Linked DNA regions of Homo sapiens. The protein of the gene in region 1 interacts with the protein of each later gene in a pairwise test. Each region holds a gene or a part of one and is shown in the gene's direction. Other genes may lie near its edges.

Region 1 (3,750 bases):
CGGGCGTGGTGCCGGGCTCCTGTAGTCTCAGCCACTGGGGAGGCTGAGGCAGGAGAATGGCGTGAACCTGGGAGGCAGAGCTTGCAGTGAGCCGAGATTGGGCCACTGCACTCCAGCCTGGGCGACAGAGCGATACTCCTTCTTCAAACAAACAAACAAACAAGAACACTGAAGTTGCTATAGAGTTTTAAGGTTGGAGCACTGGCAGCCAGCTGATGGGCAGTGAATTTGGATTTTTATCTTGAAAGCCTTTGAGAGACAGGAGAAAAATAGAAACTTGGTTCTTTGGAATTCTTTCTCTACCAGGAGTGGAGTGTGCAGTAGACCACAAATGCAGTGAGCTAGCAAGCTTGATCTGGGAACCCAGGTTGGAAATCTTGTTTTGCAGTTACTTCTCTCCTGGGTGTGAGAATAGGATTTGCTTAATTTTGATGAGAAGTCTGTTCCAATTAAAGTCAGCAAAGATTCAGAGTTAGGGTATAGTCAGGGAAAAAAAAGTTCATTTTAGGGGAATGTATAGGTTTTTAAAATTTTTTTAAATGTAGTATCATATATAAAATAAATGACTTAACCTGCTCCCCTTCCTGAGTAATTTTTTTTTTTTTTTGAGATGGAGTCTCGCTCTGTTGCCCAGGCTGGAGTGCAGTGGCGCGATCTCAGCTCACTGCAAGCTCCGTGAACCGCTTCCCGGGTTCACGCCATTCTCCTGCCTCAGCCTCACGAGTAGCTGGGACTACAGGCGCCCGCCACCATGCCTGGCTAATTTTTTTAATATTTTTTTTTAGTAGAGATGGGGTTTCACTCTGTTAGCCAGGATGGTCTCGATCTCCTGACGTCGTTATCCGCCCGTCTTGGCCTCCCAAAGTGCTGGGATTATAGGCGTGAGCTACCACACCTGGCCCCTTCCTGAGTAATTTTGTGGGTGAATAAGAAACAGATGGATTGGTTATTTATAAAAATAAAAATATATATTTAGGGTAGATTCCTGAGGAGGTACTGTTAGAGTTGACTCCATTTGACAATCAAGAAAACTTTCGTTTTAAACACTTAAACCCAGGTTCAGGAACCTGACCTAAAGACTCCAGGGGAGGCCCTCCTGACTCCCAGGCAGCTTGCTGCTTTCATGATACTACCTTGGTAACCACTCAGTAAACAGCCGTTTGAATTGTTTTATTTAAATCAGATTCTCTATACAATGCATTTGAGTGTTTGCTGTACTTTAAAGAGTGATTGTTTATTCAAAAAGGATTTTGGAGACACGTCAGATTGTGAGCTCAAGATTAGAAGACAGGGTTTTGGATTATTTGAATGCATGCTGCCAGGCCTTTGCTTTCACTCAGCTCTTTGATTTTATTCTGGTTAGGGAAAGAGATACTAGCCTGCAAAGATTAGCTTGCTTGTTTTTTTGGGAGGGGGGGTTCTCCAATGGACTTCCCCATTACCATATTTTGCAGTCATAGGGTTGAAAGCTAAATTGTCCCTTTGCTAGTCTGTAATGATTATGATGCCTAGGTTTTCTCAGCCTTGGCTCTGGTTTGCTAGTTTTAAAGCCTGAACAGTAGAAGGCTAGGAGTGAATCAGTCCCCCTCTCTACCCTTCTCAATAAAATTATTGGTAGAAAAATACATCATTGCCTCACTGTGTGCTAAGAGTCTCTTTTTTTTTTTTTTTTGAGACGGAGTCTCGCTCTGTCGCCCAGGCTGGAGTGCAGTGGCGGGATCTCGGCTCGCTGCAAGCTCCGCCTCCCGGGTTCACGCCATTCTCCTGCCTCAGCCTCCCAAGTAGCTGGGACTACAGGCGCCCGCCACTACGCCCGGCTAATTTTTTGTATTTTTAGTAGAGACGGGGTTTCACCGTTTTAGCCGGGATGGTCTCGATCTCCTGACCTCGTGATCCGCCCGCCTCGGCCTCCCAAAGTGCTGGGATTACAGGCGTGAGCCACCGCGCCCGGCCTAAGAGTCTCTTTTAAAGCTGTAAGCGTGTAGGTAGTAGCCTCCATAGGACCGAGGCCTAGTGACGACATGGTGACCCCAGCTCTTAGCCACATGCAGTACTGCTTCCCTAGATGAGCTGCTTTTTGTTTTGCCATTCTTTGTTGATTGTCACAGTGTCCCTCTGAGCTACCATGCATACAGGTTGCGCTGGTTTTGCTGGTAAAGCGCTAGAGACAGAAAGAGCTTGAGTCATGTGGGTAGTTCAGTGGTGGCCTTGGAGCTGGAATGGTGCTGTGAATAGTGCTCTCCACACCTTACATGCATTAGAGCAGCGCAGGACTTGAGGGATTTCTGTGAAGAATCACTTTATATAAGGGATGGTTCTCACACGGGCAGAGGGGTCCTTGTCCCTCAGGAGATGTGATCACAATTTCAGGGTATTGGGATTGCCATTTCAAACTGCACCCTTTCCTTGATTAGAAACTCCAAAAGTAGTGAGTGTTACGCATGGGAACTGCATGGAGACCTTAAGAGAGGGTAGGCAGTCACTATTTGGTGGTGGTCTTTTGCAGATTAGGCACTCAATCTTTTTATTAGGGTTTTTTTGTTTTTTGAGATGGAGTTTCACTCTTGTCCCTCAGGCTGGGGTGCAGTGTACGATCTCTACTCACTGCAACTCCAGCTCCTGGGCTCAAGCGATCCTTCCACCTCAGCCTTCTGAGTAAATAGGACCACAGGCACATGGTACCATGCCTAGCTAATATTTTGTAGAGATGGTGTTATACCATGTTGCCCAGGCTGTTCTTGAACTCCTGAGCTCAAGTGATCCGCCCACCTTGGCCTCCCAAAGTGCTGGGATTACAGGCATTAATCGTATTTTTAATTTAATTTAATTAATTATTATTATTATTATTTTTTTTTTTTTTGAGATGGAGTTTTGCTCTTGTTGCCCAGGCTGGAGTGCAGTGGCGCTATCTCACTTCACTGCAACCTCCGCCTCCCGTTCAAGTGATTCTCCTGCCTCAGCCTCCCAAGTAGCGAGTAGCTAGGATTACAGGCACCCGCCACCATGCCCGGCTAATTTTTGGTTTTGTTTTGTTTTGTTTTTGAGACGGAGTTTCACTCTTGTCGCCCAGGCTGGAGTGCAATGGCATAATCTCGGCTCACTGCAACCCCCGCCTCCTGTGTTCAAGCAATTTTCCTGCCTCAGCCTCCCGAGTAGCTGGGATTACAGGCGCCTGCCACCACGCCCAGCTAATTTTTGTATTTTTAGTAGAGACGGGGTTTCACCATGTTGGCCAGGCTGGTCTCAAACTCCTGACCTAAGATAATCCACCTGCCTCGGCCTCCCAAAGTGCTGGGATTACAGACGTGAGCCACCGTGCCTGGCCTAATTTTTGTATGTTTATTAGAGACAGGTTTCCACCATGTTGGCCAGGCTGGTCTTGAACTCCTGACCTCAGGTGATCTGCCCGCCTCGGCCCCCCAAGGTGTTGGGATTACAGGTGTGAGCCACCGCGCCCAGCCAAAAGTTAAAAAGACTTGCAGAGTTAAGTTTTTATATGTACGTATACATATACATGGACTAGAGAAGAATCTTCCCCTAATTTTGTCCTGAAGATAGTGAGAAAATAGGATTGGACATGTTAAAAAAAGAGCTTTTCAGGACATCACTTTTATACTATCACATCATCTAAACTTGAATATGTCCCTCCCCTTCCCCTTCCCCTTCCCTTGCCGAGACAGGGTCTCCCGCTGTTACCCCCGGCTGGAGTGTAGTGGTGCAATCATGGCTTACTGTACCCTTGACCTCCTG
Region 2 (3,750 bases), on another chromosome or scaffold:
AAGGAATCCCTTCTAAGAGAAGTTTGGAGGAAGTAGGTAATAAAATATTCAACATGTATAAATGTGTCCCAGGATAGGAGGCCATCAGATCTCCCACATGAGGCATTTTCGACCCTCTCTCCGTCTTGTTCTCCAGTTGCCCCTCGCCATGGCCTGCAGAGTCTCGGGAAAGTTGCCATTGCCCGGCGTATGCCACCTCCAGCCAACCTTCCAAGCCTGAAAGCCGAGAACAAAGGCAATGACCCCAATGTCTCACTAGTGCCAAAAGACGGAACAGGATGGGCAAGCAAACAGGAGCAGTCCGACCCCAAGAGGTAGACAGAGGCTTGGGGGACCTAGAGTGATGGGTATTTTAACTTGAACTTCAGGGAGCATTGGGGCTTGGTTTAGTCCAGCCACGTCTGAGCCAGAGACGAAGAGGTCCCTTTCTTACCTATTGCAGGTTCCTTGTTAAATGACTAAGGAATGGTACTAAACTTTAGCTTTTTGTCTTGGAGAGAGAGCATGAAAAAATAGACAACAGCCTACAAAGGATGACAAAATTAATTTGTCCTTATATTTGTAAATGGTAGCAATGGGCATGATTTCAGTCCTGAGTCTCCACCAGTTGGAGAAGTCAGGGAGGCATCTCAGGTGTGAATAACCTTCCCATTCTGTCCCCTCAGTTCCGATGCCTCAACCGCTCAGCCGCCGGAATCGCAGCCACTGCCGGCTTCACAGACGCCTGCCTCCAACCAGCCGAAACGACCCCCAGCAGCCCCCGAGGTACCTGGAGAACTGGAGGGGTGGGGAGGAAGAATGGTTCATAGCTGCCCCACCCACATCATTTATCATCTTTCTGAACACTTCCCCAGAACACTCCTTTGGTTCCAAGCGGGGTAAAGTCCTGGGCACAAGCCAGCGTCACCCATGGAGCACATGGAGATGGTGAGTGCAGCACTTAATTGGGGAGCTGTGTCTGGGCACCATGGGATGCATGAACCCTGCACTGTATTTTCAGCCAAGTGACCTTGGTCCTCTTTGGCTAAATCAAGGACCACCCATATTCAGTTTCATGGAGGCACATGAGCAAGTTTAAGTCTCAGTCTTATATGATGGAGTGTAGTGGTGCCAGAACTGACCTCCTTGGGGAATAAGCAGTTATTCTGTAGGGGGGTGAGTTTGAAGGCGGGAAACCTGATGGTCTGGTACCTGTCAGAGCCTTCCACTTTTTTTTTTTTTGAGACGGAGTCTCATTCTGTCACCCAGGCTGGAGTGCAGTGGCGCAATCTCGGCTCACTGCAACCTCTGCCTCCTGGGTTCAAGCGATTTTCCTGCCTCAGCCTCCAGAGTAGCGGGACTACAGGCACACGCCAACACACCCAGCTAATTTTTTGTGTGTTTTTAGTAGAGATGGGGTTTCACATGTTGGCCAGGATGGTCTCGATCTCTTGACCTCGTGATCCGCCCGCCTCAGCCTCCCAGAGTGCTGGGATTACAGGCGTGAGCCACCGCGCCCAGCCAGAGTCTTCCACTTTTATAGCATGTCCTCAGGAAATGTCTTCTGTCTCCTGTTCTGCATCCCCATCCTAATAGGTGGAAGGGCATCAAGCCTACTGTCACGATTCTCTCGAGAGGAATTTCCGACCCTGCAGGCGGCTGGCGACCAGGACAAGGCTGCCAAGGAAAGGGAGTCTGCCGAACAGTCGTCTGGGCCCGGACCAAGCCTCCGCCCCCAAAGTGAGTGGCTGCCTTTTGGCCAAGACATTACCTATTGCATCTCAGAGCTAGGTGCTGGCTTATTCACCTTCCTCCCCATCACTTTCAGCTGTGTTCACTTGTCCTCCAATCATTGATACCTCTCTCTACCTTTTCCAAAATACAGATTCTACAACTTGGAGGGACGGAGGTGGGCGTGGCCCTGATGAGCTGGAGGGCCCGGACTCCAAACTTCATCATGGTCATGATCCCCGGGGTGGGCTACAGCCTTCAGGCCCACCCCAGTTCCCTCCCTACCGCGGAATGATGCCGCCTTTCGTGAGTCTTGGTGTCTTGTCTTGGAACGATTACACTGGAAGCTGGAGAGCTAGGAATCAGGACTTAGTCTTTGACCTATGAGATAGAAGGGAGGGTGGGAGGATGATTGATAGCAGGCTTAAGGAGCTAGAAGGGTATATGACTGTCCCTCTGAGCAGCTACTGTTGGACCCTTTTACAGATGTATCCCCCATATCTCCCGTTCCCTCCGCCCTATGGACCCCAGGGGCCTTACCGATACCCCACTCCTGATGGGCCCAGGTGAGCAATCCAGGTCTGGGTTTGTGGCTGGGGGCAGGGGAAGCTTATTGGGGGAGGAGATGGTTTTCTAGCCAGGAGGCTCAGTCTAGGATCAGTCTCGCATGTGGTTATACAACATGCCATATTTCATTTTCTTTTTTGTGTACAGCCGTTTTCCCCGTGTGGCGGGCCCCCGAGGCTCAGGGCCACCAATGCGCTTAGTAGAGCCTGTGGGTCGTCCCTCTATTCTCAAAGAGGATAATCTCAAAGAGTTTGATCAGTTGGATCAGGAGAATGATGATGGTTGGGCAGGTAAGTGGATATTAAGGGTCAAGAATTTGGATCTTGAAAGGCAAAACCTAATGAGGAAAAAAAAATACAGGGTTATGTGGGTGAAAGGCAGACATTGAAGTGTAGGAAGACCAGGCCCAATGGCTCACATCTGTAATCCCAGTGCTTTGGGAGTGTTAGGTGAGAGGATCGCTTGAAGCCAGGAGTTCAAGACCAGCCTGGGCAACACAGCAAGACCCCCCACCTCTACAAAAAAAAAAAAATTTTTTAGTTGGGTGTGGACTGTGCATCTGTGGTCCCAGCTACTCTGGAGGTTGTGGTGGGAGGATCAGTTGAGCCCAGGAGTTGGAGGTCACAGTGAGCTATGATCGTGCCACTGAACTCCATCCTGGGCAACAGAGCGAGACTTTTAAAAGGAAAAAAAAAAAAGAGTAGGGGAGGATGGATGGGGAATACCAAGTCCTTGCAAAGTGGTGAGAGGAGTAAGAATGACAAGACTTCATTGGTGGATCTAGACTTCGGAGGGAAGGATATTGGCATTGGTAGTCCATCTTGTTACATAGTTCCAGACTACCTCCCAAGATTGGAGGGCAGAATGCTTGGGTTACTAATACTCATATTTCCCCTCAGGGGCCCATGAAGAGGTTGACTACACTGAAAAGCTCAAGTTCAGCGATGAGGAAGATGGGCGAGACTCTGATGAGGAGGGTGCTGAGGGCCAGTGAGTTAGGGCCATCAGGGGAGAAGAGGAGGGGGTCTTGGTTTGTATTTTGGTAATATACTCTTAGAGGAGTATATTAGTTGCAGCTGATTTTAATTTCACTGTTGATCTGCTCACAGCAGGGATTCCCAATCAGCTTCTGGTGAGGAACGGCCCCCTGAAGCAGATGGCAAAAAGGGCAACTCCCCCAACAGCGAACCGCCCACTCCTAAGACGGCCTGGGCAGAAACCTCTCGGCCTCCAGAGACAGAGCCGGGACCTCCTGCCCCAAAGCCTCCCCTACCCCCACCTCACCGGGGCCCCGCCGGGAACTGGGGCCCCCCTGGGGACTACCCAGTGAGTGTCTCCAATAAGGGATTGAGAGGGTCAGCTGTGGGAAATTGGTGTCAGCTGAGTAATTGAAGCGGTTGTGATATAGAGGAAGGGGGGTGCTAAAAATGGGCTGTGTGAAGTGCCAGGCTGCAGAACATCCTGGGAAGCTTT
Region 3 (3,750 bases), on another chromosome or scaffold:
GGGCGATCAGACATTACCTGGGGAATGGTGGAGGATGAGGAACCTGATCAGATATTTAGGATGATTAGATATCCAGGATGTTATGCTAAACAGACTTAGCAGGGTTCTTTGCTAATACTGGATTTTACAAGGAAGTGCACAGATGGGCCTCACAGAAAATTCAAAAGCCTGAGTAAGTTTGGCCAAGCAAAGAATTTTTGTCAAAGCTGAGATTATTAGTAGTAAACACAAGTGACTTTGTTTTGAAGACACTTTTTACGTTACCTTGACTATACCAGGGGGTTAAAAATTTCACCCATAAACTGCCAGCTTTGATTTCATGATTATTTTCTTCTTAATTCTTTTGGACCAACCTAGTCATTCTTTTCCCAATTGTAGTTTTATTTTTGTTTGATTGCACTCACATAGTGTGTTTGTTAGCTTCGGTTGTAGAGAGAGCCATATAGTCTGGAATTTCAGAGTACCTTTTTGGTCTGTTGCTGTATTTAACTTGAACACCTTCATCTGATTAATCTTTTCCTGAATTATCTGGTTGCCGGCTTAAGTTCAACATTTTTTTTTTTTTTAGACAGAGTCATTCTCTGGTTTCTCTTCAAATTGTATAAATCTTTCGCCTTTTACTAAAGATTTCCGTGGAGACAGAGTCTCGCTCTGTCACCCAGGCTGGAGTGTAGAGGCGAGATCTTGGTTCACTGCAACCTCCACCTCCCAGGTTCAGCCAATTCTCCTGCCTCAGCCTCCAGAGTAGCTGGGACTACAGGTGTGTGCCACCACACCCGGCTGATTTTTTGTGTTTTTAGCAGAGATGGGGTTTCACTGTGTTAGCCTGGATGATCTCAATCTCCTGACCTCATCATCTGCCCTCCTCGGCCCCCAACTGTGCCTGGATTACAGGCGTGAGCCACCGTGCTGGGCCAAGTTCAAGATTTTTTTTAAGCCCTAAAATGTTATCAAGTGTGGCTTTACTTGGCCATTTGCAAAATTACAAAGGAAATGACTCATTTTTAATACTTTGTAATGTCAAAAGACAAAATTACAACAAATTTAGCTTAAAGATCTTACTTCACCTTTGCCATTGTAGAATCAGGCAACACCTCATTTTATAAAATAGAACAAGTGTTCTCATGAGCCGAGCAGAAGTGGTTGGTTTTATGGTAGTCTCACTTTATCTTGAAGGGGTGTGTGTGTGTGTGTGTGTGTGTGTGTGTGTGTGTGTGTGTTTGTTTGTTTTGAGATGGAGACTTGCTGTGTTGCCCAGGCCAGAGTGCAGTGGGGTGATCTCAGCTTACTGCAAACTCCGGCTCCTAGGTTCAAGCGATTCTCCTGCCTCAGCCTCCTGAGTAGCTGGGACTACAGATGCCTGCCACCATGCCCGGCTAATTTTTGTAATTTTAGTAGACATGGGGTTTCACCGTGTTGCCCAGGCTGGTCTCGAACTGCTGACCTCAAGTGATCTGCCCATCTTGGCCTCCCAAAGTGCTGGGATTACAGGCATGAGCCACCGCACCCGGCCTTGGGGAGATATGTTCTAAGATCCCCAGTGGAAGCCTGAAATGGTGGATAGTACTGAATCCTATATACACTATAGGGCAGGATGAGATTTCATCATGCTACTCAGAACAGGGTGCAATTTGAAATTATGAATTATTTCTGGAATTTTCCATTTAATATTTTCAGACCACAGTTGACCTCAGGTAACTGAAACCTTGGAAAATGAATCTGCGGATAAAGGGATACTACCGTATACACTGAAAAGGGGTGAGGAAAACAGAAACAGAAAAGAAAAAGCAAATTGGTCATTTAAAGTTACTTTTCTTATTAGGGTTAAAGCAGATGGGACTTCCTTATGTCAGTCATATCATATCATATCAACTGGCCTGTTTGGGATTTGACTACTAACTCTGTCTCTCCTGATTGCTTGGAAGGTCAGATAAACAACTTAGTTTTGGCTTGGTGAAGTGGAACTTCAGCATGAGTGACTCCATTTTGATTTGATCTGTTGTCCCTAGTGCAGGAGGAACTCAGTCTAAACCAGTGACCTCCTATAAATTTCATTTAACACTGGTAAGTTAGTAATATGCAGGGATTAGCCTAATTGTTTTGTTTCAGTAAAGATGGCTTGAAATAAATGGGCCATCACATGTTAAATGAAGATCTTCTAAATCAAATTATATAGTATTTGTAGCAATAGAATTTGCCCTGTAAAACTTGGATAAAAAGTCTATCAGTCTCCGAAGCCAGGAGCCATGGCTTGTGCCTATAGTCCCAGTTACTTGGAAGACTGAGGTGGGAGGATCGCTTGAGCCTGGTTCGAGTCCAGCCTGGGCAACACAGCAACACGTCATCTCTAAACAGAACAAACAAACAAAACATATATATGTATATATCAGTCTTCTGGAATTTAAGGTCTACACTTTAAGAACCAGGAAATAAGCTAATTTTTTAAAATGGATTTTCAACCTAAATATATCTTAAAAATGTATAAAAATCTGTCAGATTAATAACTAATTATAAACTGATCTTGGAGTCTTTGAGGGCACTGTATTGTCTTTGATATTATTTTATTTTGCTGCTGTGTGTCACCAGTGTTTGGCTTTGTAACTCTTAATCCCCCAACTTTGTTTACAGTAATGAGAGAGGTCCAATACGTTTGGAAATGTTGAAGGCTTTCCAGGTCTAACTGCTGAAAAACAAAAATCTTACCTAATAACATGAAAGATTAATGCTTAAAATTGATTATCTTAATCAAGAAAGGAATCAAATAATTTTCAAAAGGCTAGTCATTGTTCCATTCAAATATGATTCTTTGAAATTAAAACATAAAATGGATGAGGACATAAGAGAGCTTTTCACTATTTTAACTGAATGGAAGAAATAAATGAACAATAGGGTAGAGTACTACACATATTAGAAATGTTTATAAAACTACTGCCACTCATCTTTAAAAAGCAATGTTTATATAACAGATTACTACTTAGCAATAACAAGGAATGAACTTTAGATCACACAACAACATGGATAAATCTCAAAATAATTACACAGCACGAAAAAAAGCCAGACCAAAAAGAAAAAAAAAGTACATACTGCATTGTTCCATCTGTAAAATTCTAGAAAATGCCTATTAATCTATAATGGAAGAAAGATCAATGCTGGCCTGGAGATAAGTTACAGAGGGAAGGGGCAGGAAAGAGGGAGAACAGTGGCATACTAGGAAACTTCAGGGGATACTAGATATGTTTACTATCTTGATTTGATGATGGTTTCATGGGTGTACACATATGTTGGAACATATCAAATTATGCACTTTAAATATGTGGTTTGTTACATGTCAGTTATACCTGTAAAGTTGTGTTTAAAAGTGGCTTGACCATGAAAAGACATGAAGAAATCTTTAGTGCATATCACTAAGTGAAAAAAGGCAAACTGAAAAGTCTGCATACTTTATGATTACAAGTGTATGGCATTCTGGGAAAGGCAAAACTATGGAGACAGTAAAAAGATTAGTGGTGGAGAGAAGGAGGGATGAATACGCAGAGCACAGAAGATTTTTAGGGCGGTGAAACTATTCTGAAGATACTACAGTGGTAGCTACATGTTATTATACATTTGTCGATACCCATAGAATATACCACATCAAGAGTGAATCCTAATGTAAACTGTGGACTTTGGGTGATAATGACCTGTCAGTGTAGGTTCATTGATTATAACAAATGTACCAGTTTAGGGGGGCTGTCCATAGTTGGGGAGGCT

The links.
Region 2: the proteins of HNRNPM (region 1) and PRRC2A interact in a two-hybrid assay, tested with the Homo sapiens proteins (one study listed by BioGRID and IntAct).
Region 3: the proteins of HNRNPM (region 1) and LYST interact in a two-hybrid assay, tested with the Homo sapiens proteins (one study listed by BioGRID).

The regions. Positions count from the first base shown.
Region 1 is NC_000019.10:8,447,882-8,451,631, forward strand, and holds part of HNRNPM (heterogeneous nuclear ribonucleoprotein M), read left to right. Parts: intron 1-3,750. UniProt on the Homo sapiens protein: Pre-mRNA binding protein in vivo, binds avidly to poly(G) and poly(U) RNA homopolymers in vitro. Involved in splicing.
Region 2 is NC_000006.12:31,623,596-31,627,345, forward strand, and holds part of PRRC2A (protein PRRC2A), read left to right. Parts: intron 1-136; coding exon 137-314; intron 315-665; coding exon 666-765; intron 766-854; coding exon 855-927; intron 928-1,575; coding exon 1,576-1,719; intron 1,720-1,864; coding exon 1,865-2,016; intron 2,017-2,196; coding exon 2,197-2,276; intron 2,277-2,424; coding exon 2,425-2,567; intron 2,568-3,176; coding exon 3,177-3,267; intron 3,268-3,386; coding exon 3,387-3,603; intron 3,604-3,750. UniProt on the Homo sapiens protein: May play a role in the regulation of pre-mRNA splicing.
Region 3 is NC_000001.11:235,860,277-235,864,026, reverse strand, and holds part of LYST (lysosomal-trafficking regulator), read left to right. Parts: intron 1-3,750. UniProt on the Homo sapiens protein: Adapter protein that regulates and/or fission of intracellular vesicles such as lysosomes. Might regulate trafficking of effectors involved in exocytosis.